Homo sapiens: one gene and its partners. The protein of the gene in region 3 interacts with the protein of the main gene of each other region in a biochemical or structural test. Each region holds a gene or a part of one and is shown on either strand. Other genes may lie near its edges.

The links.
Region 1: the proteins of RC3H2 (region 3) and UBE2B form a complex in vitro, tested with the Homo sapiens proteins (one study listed by BioGRID).
Region 2: the proteins of RC3H2 (region 3) and UBE2G2 form a complex in vitro, tested with the Homo sapiens proteins (one study listed by BioGRID).

The regions. Positions count from the first base shown.
Region 1 is NC_000005.10:134,381,558-134,388,596, reverse strand, and holds part of UBE2B (ubiquitin-conjugating enzyme E2 B), read right to left. Parts: intron 273-7,039; coding exon 184-272; intron 1-183. UniProt on the Homo sapiens protein: E2 ubiquitin-conjugating enzyme that accepts ubiquitin from the ubiquitin-activating enzyme E1 and transfers it to a E3 ubiquitin-protein ligase. In vitro catalyzes 'Lys-11'-, as well as 'Lys-48'- and 'Lys-63'-linked polyubiquitination.
Region 2 is NC_000021.9:44,770,793-44,777,831, reverse strand, and holds part of UBE2G2 (ubiquitin-conjugating enzyme E2 G2), read left to right. Parts: intron 1-414; coding exon 415-533; intron 534-4,144; coding exon 4,145-4,285; intron 4,286-6,342; coding exon 6,343-6,455; 3' UTR 6,456-7,039. UniProt on the Homo sapiens protein: Accepts ubiquitin from the E1 complex and catalyzes its covalent attachment to other proteins. In vitro catalyzes 'Lys-48'-linked polyubiquitination. Involved in endoplasmic reticulum-associated degradation (ERAD).
Region 3 is NC_000009.12:122,846,324-122,853,362, forward strand, and holds part of RC3H2 (roquin-2), read right to left. Parts: intron 5,114-7,039; coding exon 5,000-5,113; intron 4,907-4,999; coding exon 4,758-4,906; intron 3,500-4,757; coding exon 3,304-3,499; 3' UTR 1-3,303. UniProt on the Homo sapiens protein: Post-transcriptional repressor of mRNAs containing a conserved stem loop motif, called constitutive decay element (CDE), which is often located in the 3'-UTR, as in HMGXB3, ICOS, IER3, NFKBID, NFKBIZ, PPP1R10, TNF and in many more mRNAs.

The DNA of each region.
Region 1 (7,039 bases), on a different chromosome or scaffold from region 3:
TAACTTACACAATCAGGAAAGGGACTGCAGACTGGATCCCAAGTAGGCACTACTGAAAGAGAAAAGTTAGCTGAAAAGCATGGATTCTTGTCCAAGCTCTGCCATTGGTTACCTGTGTGCTAAGGAGCTGACTATATCCTACAGAATACTGACAAATTATAATACATCCTAACACACACTTACCTGAATTGATGTTAAGATAGAAGATACATCATATGTTGGACTCCATCGATTCTGAAGGATATCTAAACATATGCTACCATCAGCATACACTGCAAAGACAATACTAAAATTAGTTACACACTCTGCCATATCTAACAGTTAAGAGAAATCTTTACCAAACAGAATGCTTGGCTTAGAAGTTTTAAATATTAGGTAATAACTAAATTCTTCTGTATCACAGGATAACCTGTCTTAAAACTAAGGTCTCTTATTTTGCACCTGCTATGGTTTGAATGTTCCCTCCAAATCTCATGTTGAAATGTAATTGCTGGAGGCTGGGCACGGTGGCTCACGCCAGTCCTGAACACTTTGGGAGGCCGAGGCAGGCAGGATTGCTTGAGGTCAGGAGTCTGAGACCAGTCGGGCCAACACAGTGAAACCCCATCTCTACTAAAATTATAAAAATTAGCCGGGCATGGTGGCACATGCCTGTAATCCCAGCTACTTGGAAGGCTGAGGCAGGAGAATCGCTTGAACCCAGGAGGCAGGGGTTGCAGTGAGCTGAGATCACACCACTGCACTCCAGCCTGGATGACAGGGTAAGAACCTGTCTCAAAAAAATAAAAGTAAAAAAATTAAATAAAAAAAAATTAATTGCCATTGTAACACTGTTGAGAAGTGGGACCTTTAAGAAGTGCTTAGGTCATGAGTGCTCAGGGCAGGAGTGTACTCCAGATAAAAGGATGAGTTTGGCACCTTTTCTTATGTCTTGTGTGCTCACTTGTCATTCTGCCTTCCACCATGGGATGTCACAGCACCAAGGACCTTGCTTAGGTGCTGGCGCCATGCTCTTGGACTGCCCAGTCTCCAGAACCATGAGCCAAACAAACTACTATTATTTACAAATTTACAAATTATCAGTCCCTGCTATTCTGTTGTAGCAGAAAATGAACTAAGACAGCATGTTATGATCAGGAGGCTTTGAGTTAAATTTCTTCAACACACATCATTTAGCAATCTATTTAAATTCCGTATTTCTAAATATTCTTAAAGCTTTTAAAAAACTGCTTATTTTTGACATAGCAATTACACTCCTAGAAATTAAGGAAATAAACGTGGACATGCACAAAGATTTACTTACAGGATGTTCACTATAATACTACTTATAAGAGTAGAAGGCCAGGCGCAGTGGCTCACACCCATAATCCCAGCACTTTGGGAGGCCGAGGCGGGTGGATCATGAGGTCATGAGTTCGAGACCAGCCTGGCCAGCATGGTGAAACCCTGTCTCTACTAAAAATACAAAAATTAGCCAGGCATGGTAGTGCATGCGTGTAGTCCCAGCTACTCAGGAGGCTGAGGCAGAAGAATTGCTTGAACCCAGGAGGCAGAGGTTGCAGTGAGCTCAGATCACGCCACTGCACTCCAGCCTGGGCGACAGAGCGAGACTCTATCTTAAAAAAAAAAAAAAAAAAGTGAAAAACTAATTCTACCTTGTGGTCCATAAAAGAGGGAACTGGCTAAATAAACAACTGATACATTCATATAAGCAATAGCAACACAATCACCAGAAATGATACATATCTACTGTTTATAGAGTAAGACATCCACAGACTATTACCTTAAAAATAAGTTTTTAATTATTTATAATTTCCTATTTTGATTAAAAAGTTTTATATAAATTCATTTAAAGTATATGTAGTCAAAAAACATTTCTAAGACCGAATGTCAAAATGTAAGTAGTGGATATTTGTAATAGTAGGGTTATGGATGATCTTATTTTCTTTTCCTTTTTTTTTTTTGAGATGGAGTTTCGCTCTTGTTGCCCAGGATGGAGTGCAATGGTGCAATCTCAACTCACTGCAAGCTCCGCCTCCCAGGTTCAAGGGATTCTGCTGCCTCAGCCTCCCACGTAGTTGGGATTACAGGTGCCCACCACCACGCCCAGCTAATTTTTGCATTTTTAGTAGAGACGGGGTTTTGCCATATGTTGGCCAGGCTGGTCTCGAACTCCTGACCTCAGGTGATCCACCTGCCTCGGCCTCCCAAAGTGCTGGGATTACAAGCATGAGCCACTGTGCCCGGCCCTTTTTTTTTTTCTTTTTTTGAGATGGATTCTCAGTCTGTTGTCCAGGCTGGAGTGCAGTGGTGAGAACTCGGCTCACTGCAACCTCCACCTCCTGGGTTCAAGCAATACTCCTGCCTCAGCCTCCCGAGTAGCTGGGATCACAGGCATGTACAACCACGACCCAGCTAATTTTTGTATTTTTAGTAGAGATGGGGTTTTACCATGTTGGCCAGGCTAGTCTCGAATTCCTGACCTCAGGTGATCTGCCCACCTCGGTCTCCCAAAGTGCTGGGATTACAGGTGTGAGCCACAGCGCCCCCAGCAGATGATCCTCTTTTCTTTTTCTTTTTTTTTGAGATGGAGTCTCGCTCTGTCACCCAGGCTGGAGTGCAGTGGCGTGATCTCGGCTCACTGCAACCTCCGCCTCCTGGGTTCAAGCAATTCTCCTGCCTCAGCCTCCCAAGTAGGTGGGATTACAGGCACACATCACCATGCTTGGATAATTTTTTATATTTTTAGTAAAGACGGGGTTTCACTATGCTGGCCAGGCTAGTCTCGAAGTCCTGACCTCGTGATCCACCTGCCTCAGCCTCCCAAAGTGCTGGGACTACAGGCGTGGGCCACCGTGCCTGGCCTATCTTATTTTCTTTATCCTTCCTTGTGTTTATGATTTATTTGTGCAATGAGTATACATATTCCTTTCATTAAAAAAAAAAATCAAGTGACTAACAGGTATCAAAAGTCCTGAACATCTGGGAGGGTTCTTCCCTTTTTAGACTGATTCTGTGAAAATACAAGCAATGAACGTTAAGTATTTGCCCAATTGTGAGACTATCTGTAGAAAAAATTTCTAGAAGTGAACTGCTATGTAAAACAAAGAGTAAATTCATTTAAATGTTACAGATACCATTTCATGGAGCAAACCATAACAGAGAGTGGGGAGCAAATCACACTTAAACACTGTGATTCTTCCAGACTCTATCCTAAGCCCTTTTCCTTCTTACCCTTTACACACACACTGGGCAATCCTATTGACTCCTGTGGCCTCAGTTACCATCCATGTGCTCAGTATTCCCAATCATTGGCCTTAGCCTAGATCTATCTCTCAGCTTCAAAGCCAACTTACTGTCCATCCCACAGAAACATCAAACTTAGCTGCCCAAAGCAAAAATTAGTAACTCTGTAAAACCCATAAAAGTGTAAAACAATTTTAAAGTTCTGAGTAACTATTTCTGAGAATCCAAAAGTAAATCAGAACTCAAATATCTTATCAACTAATGAACAAAATACAGAATATCCATACAGTGGAATATTATTCAACAATAAAAAATGAATCACAGATACTATTATATCACAACATAGATGAGCCTTGAAAACTTTATGCTGGGTGACAGAAGTCAGTCACAAAGGACCACATAGTATAAGATTCCATTTATATGAAATATCCAGAATAGTCAAATCTAGAGGGAAAACACGTTAGGGGTAACACTTACCTAGGACTGAAGCGGGGAGGGTTAAGACAAACAGAGTTGACTGCTAAGATAATAGTTATGGGGCTTTTTGTTGTTTTTAAAGTGGTCATGGTGATGGTTATGATTATGCTAAAAACCATTTGAGTTGTACAATTTAAGTGGGTCAACAGCTTGGTGTGTAAATTATATTTCAATAAATGTTTTTAAAAAAATAAACCAGAAAGTTAAATTATAAAAAAGTACTCAGCAGAATAAAAGGGAAACCATGCTATAAATATGAAGAGATGTGAAAACCAAATACACTGTGGTTTCTTAAAAATTTGCTTAAGTGATAACCCTATATTTATATCCCTTACTCATTCTACAGTCTTTCCCACCTTTATTTAAAGACCCCCTTATCATAATTGGTTTGGTTTGACTCAATAACAAGTCTAAGCAAGATAAAGCTACAGTGGAATAAATGGTAAATGACCTGGGAACTTCCCCAAAAAGAGAAACAGAAAATAAAATTAAACCTGTCTTGGACAAAAAAAAAAGCAAAAAAGGCAGCTAGAAGGAAAAAGCAACTTCACAGAAATGAAGTGCCAAAGGTAGTATCTATTACTGGAAAGTCACCTTGATTCCAGACACAAACGAAACACATCTCTCCTCTGGGTAGGGAGCTCTATAATGTATTCTGCAGTACTAGAGACACGACCAAGAGGACCTCTGAAAATGTTCTTCCTGAAAGTGAGTTGGCTGATGGGGAACGCCACATTTAAATGAGCAAAGGCTGTGAGACTGAAGAGGAGCTTCAAGAATTTGGAGAAGTCTTTCACATGGTAATTTATAATACAGAAATATAAATGTAATAGATGTAAACAGCAAGATGTCAAGGAAGACCAAATTTATTACAAAGGAATTAGCCATCGTTTAGTGAAGAATAGTAACAAACTACTCTATGAAGTGAAAATGAGAACAATTCCACTGAAGGAAAAAAATGGAAAATGACATTAAAAGCTTTAAAAACACACAAGCCTCTGACCCAGTAATCCCCACGTTTAAAAAACTTAGTCTAGTTGTTATGCAGCAATTAAAAAAACAAACAAAAAACTCAATCAAAATAATAATTAGTATCTGAAAAGATTTATTTTGAGGCCGGGCACGGTGGCTCACACCTGTAATCCCAACATTTGGGAGGCCAAGGCAGGCGGATCACCTGAGGTCAGGAGTTCAAAACCAGCCTGGCCAACATGGTGAAACCCCGTCTCTACTAAAAATATAAAAATTAGCTGGATATACAGCTTTGGGAGGCTGAGGCAAGAGAATCACTTGAACCCAACAGGCAGAGGTTGCCGTGAGCCGAGATCATGCCACTGCACTCCAGCCTGGCCGATAGAGCAAGACTCTGTCTCAAAAAAAAAAAAAAAAAAAAAAAAAAAGCTGGGTATGGTGGCACACATCTGCAGTCCCAGCTACTCAGGAGGCTGAGGCAAGAGAATCACTTGAACCCGGGAGGTAATGGTTGCGATGAGTCGAGATCACACGACTGTACTCCAGCCTGTGTGACACAGCAAGTGTTTTTCTCAACAACAAAAAAATTTTTAAGATTTTTAAGAATGTTCAAAGTGCTATTTAAAATTGTAAACAACTGAAAACTATCAACAATTGGACACTGGTTAAAAATATGATAAATCTATGTAACAGAACATTTTGCCATTAAAAATGATGTATCAGAATATTTATTTTTTTGAGATGGAGTCTTGCTCTGTTGCCAGGCTGGAGTGCAGTGGCGCGATCTTGGCTCACTGAAACCTCCGCCTCCCGGGTTCAAGCAATTCTCCCGCCTCAGCCTCCCGAGTAGCTGGGACCACAGGCATGCGCCACCATGCCCAGCTAATTTTTGTATTTTTGGTAGAGATGAGGTTTCACCACGTTGACCAGGATGGTCTTGATCTCTTGACCTCATGATCCACCTGCCTTGGCCTCCCAAAGTGCTAGGATTACAGGCGTGAGCCACTGCACTCAGCCCAGAATATTTATTAAGGAAAATGTTCACAGTATATTAAAAAAACAAAAACAAACAAACCAAAAAAAACACCTTATTTTATATATAACATCCCAATTTTCTTTTTTTTTTTTGAGATAGGGTCTTGCTTTGTCACCCAGGATGGAGAGCGGTGGCACAATCATGGCTTGCTACAGCCTCAACCTCCCAGGCTCCAGCAATTCTCCCACCTCGGCCTCCCTAGTAGCTGGGAATACAGGTACGCACCACTGTGCCCAGCTAATTTTTGTATTTTTTGTAGAGACAGGGTTTCACCATGTTGCCTAAGCTGGTCTTGAACTCCTGGGCTCAAGCAATCCACCCTCCTCAGCCTTCCAAAGTGCTGGAATTAATAGGCATGAACCACTGTGTGTGGTCATTGACTCCAACTTTGTATATGCAAAATTGTACTTTTGAGATAGAATCTTGCTCTGTTGCCCAGGCTAGAGTGCAGTGGCACAGTCATGGCTCACTGCAGCCTTGACCTCCTGGGCTCAAGTGATCCTCTCACCTCAGCCTCCATAAGTAGCTGAGACTACAGGTGTGCGCCACCATGCCTTGATATTTTTTTTGTTTTTTATAGGGATGGGACCTCGCTATGTTGCCCAGGCTGGTCTCTGACTCCTGGTCTCAAGCAACCTTCCCACCTTGGCCTCCCAAGGTGCTGGGATTATAGGTATGAACCACCACGCCTGGCCAAAATTGTATTTTTGAAAAGCTTAATTTTAGCCAACAGATTTTTCTTATTTTTCACAATTCCACAAATAAATAGATAATACTTTTATCTATTTCTTTTAGTAGAGACAGGATCTTACTATGTTACCTAGGCTGGCCTCAAGCCACCCTCCTGCCTTAGCCTCTGGAGTAGCTGGGACTACAGGTGTGCACCACTGTGCCTGGCTTACATATTACCTTTGTTTTTTTGGAGACAGAGTCTTGGTTTGTCACCCAGGCTGAAGTGCAGTGTTGTGAGCTCAGCTCACTGCAACCTCCGTCTCCCAGGTTCAAGTGATTCTCCTGTCTCAGCCTCCTGAGTAGCTGAGATTACAGGTGCCCACCATCATGCCTGACTAATTTTTGTATTTTTAGTAGTGATGGGGTTTCACCATGTTGGCCGGGCTGGTCTCAAACTCCTGACCTCAGGTGATCCGCCCACCTTGGCCTCCCAAAGTGCTGAGTTTATAGGTATGAGCCACCATGCCCGACCATGTATTACTTTTAATTCAGGAGTTATTAAAACAACTTGACCTCAAATTTGGAAGCTTTGTAAGAGTCTAGCTACAGAAACATAGCTAAAGGCTGGAAAAAATG
Region 2 (7,039 bases), on a different chromosome or scaffold from region 3:
TATTTTTATTTTTGTTTATTTTTTGAGACGGAGTCACGCTCTGTCGCCCAGGCTTGAGTGCGGTGGCGAGATCTTGGCTCACTGCAACCTCCACCTCCCAGGCTCAGACGATTCTCCTGCCTCAGCCTCCCAAGTAGCTGGGATTACAGTCATGCGCCACCACACCCAGCCAATTTTTGTATTTTTAGTAGAGACAGGGTTTCACCATGTTGCCCAGGCTGGTCTTGAACTCCTGACCTCAGATGATCTGCCTGTCTCGGCCTTCCAAAGTGCTGGGATTACAGGCGTGAGCCACCGCACCCGGCCTCACGTGCATTTTTAAAGTGGTAAAAATGTTCTTAACCCATTTGTCAATTGTGGTCGACGTTGAAAAATGTACTTTGAAGTTCAGTCTACGTATTTTATATCTTCTAGGGGCCCAGAAGACACCTGCTTTGAGTTTGGTGTTTTTCCTGCCATCCTGAGTTTCCCACTTGATTACCCGTTAAGTCCCCCAAAGATGAGATTTACCTGTGAGATGTTTCATCCCAACAGTAAGTGCTTTTGGAAGTAGTTTTTGTGGTACCAGGATAGGTACGGAGATAATATTATCAGCCACCTGAAATGTGGTATATTCTATATGTCTATGATGTAGATCTTTAGAAAACACTTCTTATGTTTTGAAATTCAGCCAAGTAAGCATGGTGGTATTAAGCACATGATTTCAATTTTGAAGGTCAGTTTAATATAGATAAAAGACAACAGGCACCTAAAACCGGATGCCATTTGACCCAGCCACCCTACTTCACTGGGGAGGAAGTTTTACACATGGGTGTGTGCTCAGAAGGGGTTATGCTAATCTTTGTCATAGTGTTATTTGTAATGGTGAAAATTTTGACTTAACCTGGGTTTTTAACACAAGAATAAATTAAGTTATATATTGTATTAGTCTGTTGTCACGCTGCTAATAAAGACATATTCAAGTCTGGGTAATTTATAAAGGAAAGAGATTTAATGGACTCACAGTTCCACATGGCTGGGGAGACCTCACAATCATGGCAGAAGGCAAAGGAGAAGCAAAGGCACATCTTAGTGGCGGCAGGCAAGAGAGTGTGTGCAGGGGAACTGCCCTTTACGGAACCATCAGATCTCGTGAGACTTGTACACTATCACGAGAACAGCACGGGAAAGATGTGCCTCCATGATTCAGTACTTCCCACTGGGTCCCTCCCATGACATGTGGGAATTATGGGAGCTACAATTCAAGATGAGATTTGGGTGGGGACACACCCAAACTATATCATATATGTTAGAATGTGATGTAGATTTTTTAAATGATCTAAAAGAAGAATCAATGATACAAAGTAGTATTTGTGTTATATTGACTGGGAAAAGCAGTAGCACTGTTATAATTTCCTCTTGAAAAAGAAATTCACATGTAAATGTATATATAACTGGAAAAGTAAGCACAAAAATGTTAAAAGTGATTCTTTTTTCAGATTGAAATTTTTTTTCCTTTTTGTAAATCTTTTTTTGCCCTAAAATTAATATATATTAATTTTAAAAGGAGGAAAAAAATAAGGTCATTTAAGTGAATTGTACTGTAGCTTATTTGAAAATGTGTCCAGTAGTAGGAATTGGAATTTCTGAACAGCTGTAGTTTTTATTTTTTCCTTTTACATTCTTCCTTTTACATCTTTGCCATAGGGGTTTTCAGGACTACCCCCCCACCCCCGGCCACTTCACTGGTGGAAATGCCGTCTGCCAATAGACTTGCTGTCCTAACCCTCGTTTAGGACTTCTCATTTACTGCAGATATTGGTACACATAGGTAGTGGGCGGCTGCCTGAGAGAGACCATTTGGTACTTCTTTTCTTATCTCAAAGCTGCTTCAGTCTTGTGTGCACAGGGGATGCTCAGAAGCGTGCCTTCTTTCAGGGAGACTGGCCATGCGCCTGAGTTAGATGATAACATGGAGGTTCATCACACGCTGTCTACTTGAGTGTGTTTTTGGAATTCTCCATAATAAAAAGTTAAAAAATACAATTGATAGGTAAGAGTAATTGAAGTAGTTTCAAATTGGTTAGCTATAAAATGCAACTATGAAGAGGATTGTAGGTAATTAAAATACTAAGATTGTATTGAGGAGAAATATATTATTCAGAACAATACCTGTGACATGGCATTAGTGACAAATATGACCAATAAACTGATTACCTTATGTGACTATGTACTACAGGTGGTCTGATTATTATTTTTAATGTTCTGGTAATTATTTTTAATGCTCAGATAATATAAATTTTTGCCTTACTGTAATTGGATTATTTTGATTTTTTAAAAATTATCTTTGAGAACTATAGGTCTACCAATATCATAAAAACTAGTCAATAAATACTTTAAAAACAATTCAACACACGTACTGAAAGTTGCTGGTATACAGTGGTGAGCAAATAATAGCAGACCTTCAGGAGCTTATATTCCAAGGACAGGGATGGACATTGATAGGAGAATCACACAAACAAAATGCAAAGTCACATCAGGAAGTTCTGGGCAGCACCTTGCAGAGGTGGTGGTTGGATGGACCATCTGTAGGGAGTGAAGCAGGAGTTACCTGAGTGATTCGGGGAGGAGGGGCCCTTCACATGTGCAAAGGCCCAGCGCAGGAAGTGACGGGAGAGGAAGGCCGGGGCCAAACTACCTCAGGCCTTTTGGTCAATACTGAAGGTTTTGATGTTTTCTCCTGGGAGTGGCGGAACTCCATTGAAAGACTCCAAGGGAGTGGCATGACCAGAATGATCTCTGACGGCTCGCTCTGGGTACAGTGCAAAGGACAGGTGGGAGGAAGCCAGGCAGGCCCTCGGCTGTAGTGGTCTAGGGTAGAGACACCGGCAACTTGGGAACTAAATGTGGGCACTAAAGATAAAGAGATGTGTGTGGATCCACGAGAGGTTTAGGACATGGCACTGCTGGGACTTGGTGAAGGAGGGGCTGTGGCAGGGACACAGGTGCTTTTGATGCTTCTGTGGATGCAGTGTCACCCTATGGGACCAACTCCTGGAGAAGGCAACACAGAAGTGGGAAACTTCCTGATTTTGTGGATGTGGATCTTAGGTGGACAGCCTGATGTCCAGGGCAAGTATGCATCTAGTTTCTTCCACTCTCCTTGAATGAGAAGTTGTGGTTCAGTTCCTGGATAGTAGAGCGTTCACCACTGAACGTTCACCACTGAAACAATGGATGAGTGGAAACACATAGGACCAGGTATGAAAGACAAGACTGTTTGAAGGTAAGTGATCGCCATTCACATTTGTGAATTTTCATGAAATTCAGAGCTTATTAACTCAGGTGAGTTAAATAAATGTATTTTAAAATTGCTATTTCTATTATTATAACTTTAATGGCTTTATAATTTTACAGTTGAGTCTATCTAGATGGATTACTGCATATCTGAGTATATATGGAGCCATCTGAGAATTCCTCCCAATTTTATGTAAAAGAGGACTGATTAAATGCTGTGAATTGAAAATTTATTTCTCTTTATCAGACCTTGTGTATCTTTTTAATGATGATATTTGGTGGAAAGGGATTTGATTTAGACACATTGACCTACATTCCAGGTTGTACTGATGATAATTTACTTATTATTAGAGTAAGCTACCAAGAGAAATCCTGGTGCCTTTCTTTTTGTAGATATTTACATAATTCCAGTTGCCTTTATCATAGCCATGTGAACATATATTTTACACAGACCGGTTCAGGGATTTAATGATAGAATTAGAAATAGCTAAGGAACTAGCTCTGAAAAGTATTGTAAATAATCCTAATCACATTAGATATTTTGATAAAATATTTGCCAGATAACCTTTCATTTAGTCTTTTTGTATATATTGCTTGAAAAAAATTCATATGAAAGTGGATTAGACTACGACAGCTGATTAGAACTGGCTGGGTCAGCCTGGAGCCTGTCAGTGAGTGAGCAGGCCCCACCGGGATTCCTGCAGACATGAAGCGTGACACTCAGGGCCCCAGGCTATGCCCCAGCTGTGCAAACAGCTTGGTTGCTGTGTCTGCAGTCTTTGTTCTCATTATCTGTGGAGCCTGCCCAAGCGCGGCGATGCCTCGGGCACCATTCCTGGGCTCACTTGGCTGCCTCTGACCCTTGCAGTCTACCCTGATGGGAGAGTCTGCATTTCCATCCTCCACGCGCCAGGCGATGACCCCATGGGCTACGAGAGCAGCGCGGAGCGGTGGAGTCCTGTGCAGAGTGTGGAGAAGATCCTGCTGTCGGTGGTGAGCATGCTGGCAGGTAAGGCCCGAGCCTCCTGGCAGGAGCTGCCGTGGACACCCAGGCTGCAGGTGTTCTCCAGCCTTGCGTCATCCTGTCTTTAGAATGTCCTTTTCCTCATTTGCAGTTAGTTTACACATGCTATTGCCATTTAATGTTATCTGCCTACACTTTTCCAATTGTAAGCATACCTTCTAGCATAGCCTGGGGTTGTATATTGTATTGTCGGCCATAATTAACTGGTCTCTGGTCCTTGATCGTCTTTTTCCCTCAGTAGGTGTTTATTGAGGACCCACTACATGCCACACACTGGACTGGGGGTGTAAAGCTTCGTGTGACAAAGACCCCAACTCTTTGTTCCTACGTTCTAGGGAACTGTCCAAGCCTACCAGCAGTTAGAGGCCAGTGGGATGCACCCTAAGATCAGACACATGCAGGGACTCTCGGGCCACTTCCTGGTGGGGCTGTCTGGGGTGTGTTTAGGACATGTAGGTGTTGATGAGGTAGGAGGGAGGGAATGGGGTTTTGGGGCAAAGGAAGCAGCCTGGGCTGAGGCCCAGAGGCAGGAGGTGGCTGACTTGATGGGGGCACTGCCAGCTCATTTTGGCTGGAGCCAAGGCTGCAGGGAGAGGAGCCCCAGCAGACCCTGGGGATTGGAGTTGGGGGTGTGATGTCCTGTGAGCTGTGCCTTCGAAGGGCCATCCTTGCAGCAGTAACCAATAGTGTGATGGAAGACAAACAGAGACATCGTGGTGTTGCAGTAGCCTGGAGAGAAAAGAGAAGGGCTGAGTGGTCCCAGGGCTAAGAGGAAGGGGTGGGTTTGGGAGACCTTGAAGGTACAGGCTCTGGGACTCCTGGTTCTTTGTCTACCAGAGGTGCTGCTCTGGGTTCAGGAGACAGCAGGATTTGGGGAATAGTTTGAGGTGTGTGGGACAAGGGGCCTCCATCCACAAAAGGGGGTCAGACACGAGAGTGAAGATGTGGGGTCATTTCTGGATGAGGCAGTAGGTGATGGAGTAGGACGGAGGGTGACAGCATAGCAGGGAGGGGTCTTCCAGGGCAGTCAGGAGGAAGGGTGTGGGAAAGGAAGGCGGCAAGTCCGAAAGGAAAGAGCAGACCCAGCAGAGGGCCAGGGGTCGATGCCAGAGTGAGGCCACTCAGCTATTCTCTGCAGAGCCTTTGGGTGCCGTGGAGTGGGGTCTAGAGGGATGTGAGGTCAGGGCCTGTGACGCGAGTGTGTATCCTGAGAGGGCTGAGGCGTGAACCCTCTTCATGTGCTGAGTGGAGGGAGCCAGGCCAGGGGATTGGAGATTGGGAGGGAGGCAGTGGCTCAGGCTGTCCTCAGATGTCAGCTGTGGGTTTTATCCTCATCAACTCTGCTCTGAACCGGTCCCCACGTGCATTCTGAGCAGCGCCACCGCCGCACTGCACAGCTGCTGCCTCAGCACATGTCATCCAGTTCTGGTGGTCTCTCTCCGTTCTGCCTTCCGGCAGGCCCTGGCTACTCCCTCCGTGCCTCCTAACTGCAGTTCTGCAGTGACTGCCAGTGCCGCTGGCTAGGGGGTGGGTCAGGTATCCTGGGGTCAGGTGTCTACCTTAGGCTGCACATTTGCTTGGGATTGTCTTGGTAGGAGCTGTGAGGGGCAGTTTTGCTGAGAGGGCGCTCTGTGAGAGAGAAGCCACACTGCAGAGTGTCTTGAGAAAGGTGAAATAAGCAGCAGGTGGTCCCCGTGTAGCTTGTCCGGGTGCCAGAAGTGCAGTGGCCCAGGAGGCTGCTGTGGGAGGCCGTGTGGGCCTGTGCTTAGGTGGTTGTCGCATGTTCCACAGCAAGACAGATGACAACTTGTCCTGGTGTCTTCAGACACTCAGAACGCAGGAGTCATGAGAGTGGCTTTCGTTGAGACCTGCGTGGCCAGCACTCTAGAGGTGGGGCCGACCCCATGCAGTTCTCAGGTTCTTTGTTTCTGGGACACAGCTCTTGAAAGCCCCCGCCAGTGTTTTAAATAAATGGGAGACCTTGCCAGGCTGCTTACGTATAAGACTCCCTTTTACATGGAGGGTGTTCCCTTTTCTTTCAGAGCCCAATGACGAAAGTGGAGCTAACGTGGATGCGTCCAAAATGTGGCGCGATGACCGGGAGCAGTTCTATAAGATTGCCAAGCAGATCGTCCAGAAGTCTCTGGGACTGTGAGACCTGGCCTCGCACAGGCGCGCACACACCGCCAAGCAGCTCAGCATTCTCCCCCGGCACACTTAGTGACAGTGATGCTCTGTGCTGGTACCAAACAAGGCAGACTTGCAAGAACCATGGCATCTTTTTTTTTTTTCAAACCTTTCCTACTTCAAACAGGCTTCTCTTCTGAAATGATGACTTAATGTCGAATATTGACAGCTTACTGCAGTTTTACAGTATTCCTCACAAAGGGCTTCAGGTAGATTATCAGAGCTGTCAGCACTACCTCTCCCCGCTGAAACCAGCAGTTCATGGCTTCCTGTGGATTCCCTCCCTCCCTGGAGTGTTGAGGGGGTTGTACCTGCCAGACTTCCAGGGGACGATGGAATACCCAGAACGCTCCTTCTGAAGAAATGGGGCCCTGTAGCTGCAGCACAGGGGAAGGGCCCGGCACCCTTTCTGGGTCCTTCCTGGTTCCCTGTGGGCCCCATGAGGAGTCCATTACTTCCTTTCTTCCTTCATATTTTACAGGCAGATGCTTTTCTTATAATCTAATTACATCTTTTCATTTGTTATATATTACAAACCATCACACTTAGAAA
Region 3 (7,039 bases):
CTGGCCTAATGAACTCCCTTTTTTTTGAAAATTACAATGCACAACTTTCATGTATGACACTGGTTTATCACATGGCATTGAAAATAAGACGTGGCAGCAAAGGCAAGGGAATCTGCTTTGTTCAGGTACCAACTAGAAAAAATATATATGTAACTTCCTCTGAATTCATAAAATGAAATGAAACCACAAAAAAACTGATGCTACAACCACAGTAACTGAATGCGGCACATGGATTTCAGAATGGAACTTAGAAATTAAAAAACAAAAACACAAAAAATGAAAGAAAATAACCACCACTTTCCTGCTTTCCAGACCTCAGACTATTTTTTCTGATTAGACAATAGGTAACATATGCAGTTTGGTTACCCACATTACACATTTCCTCTCTTGTTGCTTTGTATCCTTTGATTCCAAATTTGTACATCACATCTTGTTGGTAAAAAGGCCAAATGACGGGAAATGCCTCAATTTTAAAAAGTCATATCCTAGGTCTGATTTGTAACATTTTCCTCGATGATATCAGTAGGTACCATTCTGAAGAAGGATCAGATGAACTGCCCTTTCTTCGAAAGTGGCAGAGAACCAATGGCTTTACTTCACATTAAGCCCACCATGACAGACAGAAGGTGACCACTACATAGAGAATGGATGCAACACAGAATAATCTCAACACAGAAACAATTCCTATGTTGTTAGTGAAAAAGAGAGTAAGTTTTTAAGAACAGGGAGTTATTGTTTTATGGGATCACCTGCTGCAAGACAAGCATTATTTTAATATAAATGTTCTGAGACATACCAATAAGGTTGGCAGGTATATACATATACTGATGCAAATGTAATTTCACTGGACAAGTAGGCAAACATCTAAGCAGTTTATCCCAACCCCCTCCAGCAGAGCACAACCAAGTTTCAAAATTTCAATTTTAAAATTAAAAAGATAAGGTTAAATACACAAGATCAATTTATGTAGTATATATTCACCCTCAGAACGTGCTGAAGATGTTTTGTGTAGTTCTGTTGCACAGAGGGTTCTTTCCCTGAGGGCACATAAGGAGCTCTCAAACTGTTAATAGGTCTCTATTTTGTAACAAAATAGCAATTTTAAAATCTTAAAAAAAAATACATTACCTTCAACATGGAAGATCTCACTATTAAATATCCATGAAATAGACAGACTGGTTTGCATATCCTTTTTGGAATTACAAACAGCAAATAAAGTACATTGGAAGCATTTCAAATGTAATAAGCACATATTTATAGAAAGGTTCTGATATAAATTATATAACAATCATGTTCCTGTAATATTCTAGGCTAATTTATAATGTCAGAAAAGTTAATGTAACATGGTTTAAAACCCTTGTTCCTATTCATTTCAGGTTACAGAGTGAAATAAATAAAATGTCTTCATAGGGATGGGGAGCACTGGCCATGGCAAAAAAGGTACAGTACTAACCAAAGGAAACTAAGTCAAGGCTACTGTGCTGTTGTTATGCTACAAACAAACATCTTCATACATTTGAGTATTAAATAAATGTGTAAGATCTTCCATACTGACACCAGAATATCAAAACTACCCCTTTGTTTCTCAGGTATATTTACAACTTATCAGTCACCTTATGAGCATGTTCATTAAGACAGGTATCAAACACCAGTATTTACTCATTCTAATCAAGAAATTTCAGGGAAATGTCAACCCTCCCGCCCCTGGAAATGTGCACAAAACTTTTTATCAAAATCTTATCTGATACAATGCTGTGGTTTTGTAAAACAACTAAATAGCTCAGACGACCAATAACATGATCCTGTTTAAGCATCTTGCTAGCAGGAAAAGCCCTTACATACAGTACACCTGGTGAAAGATCAGCTTGGCTTAAAATATTCCAGTACAATTTTCAGAGTAAACAACTTCACAGAAGTTAATTAAAAAAATAATAATAAAAGTCAAACTAATCTTAAAGAAACAGAAGAAAAACAGATAGATAAACTATAGGTAAAGATCACCAGGAAGGAATGCCCAGCTCTTCTTTTCAAATGTTGACTGAAATTTAGGTTTCAGTACAATACCTCCCACAAATCTGATGCATGACTTGTTGAACACATTGTATACTTTCAGATGCCAAGTCAAAACCATTTCAGTCACATTTTAGCAAGGCAGAAATTATTCATGTTCTTAAGTATGAATAAATGTTAGCCACTGTTCTACTATTACACAGTTCATAGTCTTATCAACCTAACAGTCAAAAAACAAGAAAAACTAAACCCCAACATGAAGTAACAATAAACAATATTTAACCAAGATAATGCAATGAACAACCAAATTAATTAGTTTAAATTAAAAACCCAGCAATACCATCTTGTTAGTCAGTGCAAACGCTACATACAGGGTTTTCTCAAGAAAGCTGAAAGCACCTGATTCTTTTGCCAAGTCATCAGATTCAATAATGTACAGGCTTAAATCTGCATTTTAAAAAACTGCCATTACATTAGTGCATAATTTATCAAAATTGTAAAAACGATTCTGCATAACTTAGGAGAATTTAATATCTAGTACATCAGCTGAAAGACTTAGGCACTTGGTTATATTTTTAATTAATTACTTCAACAAGTAGCCTGTGTATAAATATTAACAAAGCAGAAACTACTCTTGAAAAATGGAAAATTAAAAAAAAATTATATGCTACAGATAAAAGCACTGCACCACACTCCTACATATAATGCAGTAAAGAATGCTAGTATATAACCCTGTAAAATTCTATGGTAAGAACATCTAACTCCACTCTTCAAAATTAAAAAAAGAAAAAGAAATCCATGCAAAGTTCCATGAAAAAGATAAATAAAGCAGCTGGAATGAGATGGAAACTTCTCTCAGTGAAACATAAAATAGAAATAAATAAGTTAACTAAGTCTACTTTCACTAGATGTATCATTGTAGGATCCTGCTAGTTTAATAACTGAGTTGTTAATTTTCTATAGAAGCCATTTAAAATAGGAAATGGCTCAGTTACTGCACCGGATTGCTACAAACTCATAAAAAGCTGCTTGAAGCTTAAGTTAAATGTTGTCCAAATTCCAATCATTTCTGGAAAGTGAACATGTTACCCTAGTAAAGTAAATTTTCTTTTTTTTTTTCATAATGCTAATGCAAGAGGGCTTGAAGTATCAAAGAGTCCACAGGAAATGGATGCCCCCAGTAATATCTTTTTTTTAAAAAAAATATACATTATATAATATATATTATATATATAAAAAGCTAGTGTAAATGCTTCCATGGTGTGGTCACAAATTTGAAAGATGAACCTCCTTTCAGCTGTTAACCATCTTCCCATTTGCAACAGGTTTTAAAAAGTCGTTTTTATCTTCAGACATAACATGAGTTTTCAGAATGAGGTTGCCAGCACTGACAGATGTGGTGATGGGGAGGCAACTTGCATTGCTAATAGACACTGGGAGTGGCTGGCTAAAGCAAGAAGTTACCGGCAGAATTGTTTTTTGCTCCTCCCTGAGAAAAAAGAAATGACATTAAAAACAAATTAGCTTTAAGTGCAAACTGTTAAGGGTGACTATACATATTTAATGAAAGCTACAGCAAACTTTAGGAGTCTCTAGCAAAGACATGTCTTTATCACTAGAAGTATCAGAAGTAACTAGAAAAGTCCTGTTTTCCTATTTTTGAGACAGAGTCTCCCTCCGTCGCCCAGGCTGGAGTGCAGTGGCATGATCTCGGCTCAATGCAACCTCTGCCTCCTGGATTCAAGCAATTCTCCTGCCTCAGCCTCCCAAGTAGCTGGGATTACAGGCATGTGCCACCACGCCCAGCTATTTTGTATTTTTAGTAGAGATGGGGTTTCACCATGTTGGCCAGGCTGGTCTAGAACTCCTGACCTCAAATGATCCACCCGCCTCGGCCTCCCAAAGTGCTGGGATTACAGGTGTGAGCCACCACTCCTGGCTTGAAAAGTCCTGTTTTCCAAAAGTTATGATAAAAATTAAAATACTAGTTAGTTTAAGGCCAAACTACCAAGTTGAAGATTAAGCCCATATTTTTGGCAGTAATTATTCAAAATGGCAGTATTATAGCCAAGAAAATATACTATATTATATGCTATCTATCTATAGATAGATAGATAGATAGATAATTTTGAGATGGAGTCTCAGTCTGTCGCCCAGGCTGGAGTGCAGTGTCACGATCTTGGCTCACTGTCTCCGCCTCCCGGGTTCAAGCGATTCTCCTGCCTCAGCCTCCCAGGCAGCTGAGAATACAGGTGCCCGCCACTATGCCCAGCTAATTTTTTTGTATTTTTGTAGAGACAGGGTTTCACTATGTTGGCCAGGCTGCTCTTGAACTCCTTGTGATCCACCCGCCTCAGCCTTCCAAAGTGCTGGGATTACAGCCATGAGCCACTACGCCCAGCCTAGCCAAGAAAATCTTAACATGATTTTCAAAAAGAGAAACCATTAATCTAGGTTGTCATTCTCCATTTTGTAGTCTAGAAATTTGGCAACCAGATTAAAGAAGCATAACCTGATGCTGGAACACAGATTAACTTTATCTCAACAAAAAGCAAGTTTCAGGCTACCAAAATGGACTGCTTTGTTAGTTCAATTTTACTTTTTCTTCCCTAAAAATCCAGATTGACCAAATCATTGCCCATATAAGGTCTTCCCCTCACAGCATAAAGCCAAAAATTAATTTCGCATTTTTTTCTCTTTATTATGTCCTATGCCCACTGTTTATGAATTTTCTGTCTAACACTCACAGAATCACATGGTCTTCACCTAAACTCTGTTTCTTCTGCTTTGGTGGCTCCTTTTGGTGCTGCTGTACTGGATGCCCATTTTCCACTGCCATTCCATTTAGCAACTGATCATTTTGAGAACTGATACCAAGCTGTATGTCCAAGATCTCCTAAGAAAATAAAATGTTAATCCTTCAGTATGAAAGTATTTTATAAATTTTCAATCAAACAAAGCCTCTCAATTATCTAATTGTGGCACTTACTTCAATTGGTTCACTTTGTCCATCAGGTTCATCAGTATCAAGTGCTGAAAGCTCTAACTCGATATCCCTATCAGGTTTAGTATCTGTTGCATCTTCTGTATAATCACTCTGTAACTAAGAAAAATACTGATTTTGCTCTCCCTCTCCCTCTCCCTCTCCCCATGGTCTCCCTCTCCCCATGGTCTCCCTCTCCCTCTCTTTCCATGGTCTCCCTCTCATGCCGAGCCGAAGCTGGACTATACTGCTGCCATCTCGGCTCACTGCAACCTCCCTGCCTGATTCTCCTGCCTCAGCCTGCAGAGTGCCTGCAATTGCAGGCGCGCGCCGCCACGCCTGACTGGTTTTCGTATTTTTTTGGTGGAGACGGGGTTTCGCTGTGATGGCCGGGCTGGTCTCCAGCTCCTAACCACGAGTGATCTGCCAGCCTCGGCCTCCCGAGGTGCCGGGATTGCAGACGGAGTCTGGTTCACTCAGTGCTCAATGGCGCCCAGGCTGGAGTGCAGTGGCGTGATCTCGGCTCGCTACAACCTCCACCTCCCAGCCGCCTGCCTTGGCCTCCCAAAAAGCCGAGATTGCAGCCTCTGCCCGGCCGCCACCCCGTCTGGGAAGTGAGGAGCGTCTCTGCCTGGCCGCCCATCGTCTGGGATGTGAGGAGCCCCTCTGCCTGGCTGCCCAGTCTGGAAAGTGAGGACCGTCTCTGCCCGGCCGCCATCCCATCTGGGAAGTGAGGAGCGCCTCTTCCCGGCCGCCATCACATCTAGGAAGTGAGGAGCGTCTCTGCCCGGCCGCCCGTCGTCTGGGATGTGGGGAGCGCCTCTGCCCCGCCGCCCTGTCTGGGATGTGAGGAATGCCTCTGCCCGGCCGCCACCCCGTCTGGGAGGTGAGGAGCGTCTCTGCCCGGCCGCCCCGTCTGAGAAGTGAGGAGACCCTCCGCCCGGCAGCCGCCCCGTATGAGAAGTGAGGAGCCTCTCCGCCCGGCAGCCGCCCCGTCTGAGAAGTGAGGAGCCTCTCTGCCTGGCAGCCACCCCGTCTGGGAAGTGAGGAGCGTCTCCGCCCGGCAGCCGCCCCGTCCGGGAGGGAGGTGGGGGGGTCAGCCCCCCGCCTGGCCAGCCGCCCCGTCCGGGAGGTGAGGGGCGCCTCTGCCCGGCCGCCCCTACTGGGAAGTGAGGAGCCCCTCTGCCTAGCCAGCCGCCCCGTCCGGGAGGGAGGTGGGGGGGTCAGCCCCCCGCCCGGCCAGCCGCCCCGTCCGGGAGGGAGGTGTGGGGGTCAGCCCCCGGCCCGGCCAGCCGCCCTGACCGGGAGGGAGGTGGAGGGGTCAGCTCCCAACCCGGCCAGCCGCCCTGTCCGGGAGGTGAGGGGCGCCTCTGCCCTGCCGCCCCTACTGGGAAGTGAGGAGCCCCTCTGCCCGGCCAGCCGCCCCGTCCGGGAGGGAGGTGGGGGGGTCAGCCCCCCGCCTGGCCAGCCGCCCCATCCGGGAGGTGAGGGGCGCCTCTGCCCGGCCGCCCCTACTGGGAAGTGAGGAGCCCCTCTGCCCAGCCACCACCCCGTCTGGGAGGTGTGCCCAACAGCTCATTGAGAACGGGCCATGATGACAATGGCGGTTTTGTGGAATAGAAAGGGGGGAAAGGTGGGGAAAAGATTGAGAAATCGGATGGTAGCCGTGTCTGTGTAGAAAGAAGTAGACATGGGAGACTTTTCATTTTGTTCTGTACTAAGAAAAATTCTTCTGCCTTGGGATCCTGTTGATCTGTGACCTTACCTCCAACCCTGTGCTCTCTGAAACATGTGCTGTGTCCACTCAGAGTTAAATGGCTTAAGGGCGGTGCAAGATGTGCTTTGTTAAACAGATGCTTGAAGGCAGCATGCTCATTAAGAGTCATCACCACTCCCTAATCTCAAGTACCCAGGGACACAAACGCTGCGGAAGGCCGCAGGGTCCTCTGCCTAGGAAAACCAGAGACCTTTGTTCACTTGTTTATCTGCTGACCTTCCCTCCACTATTGTCCTATGACCCTGCCAAATCCCCCTCTGTGAGAAACA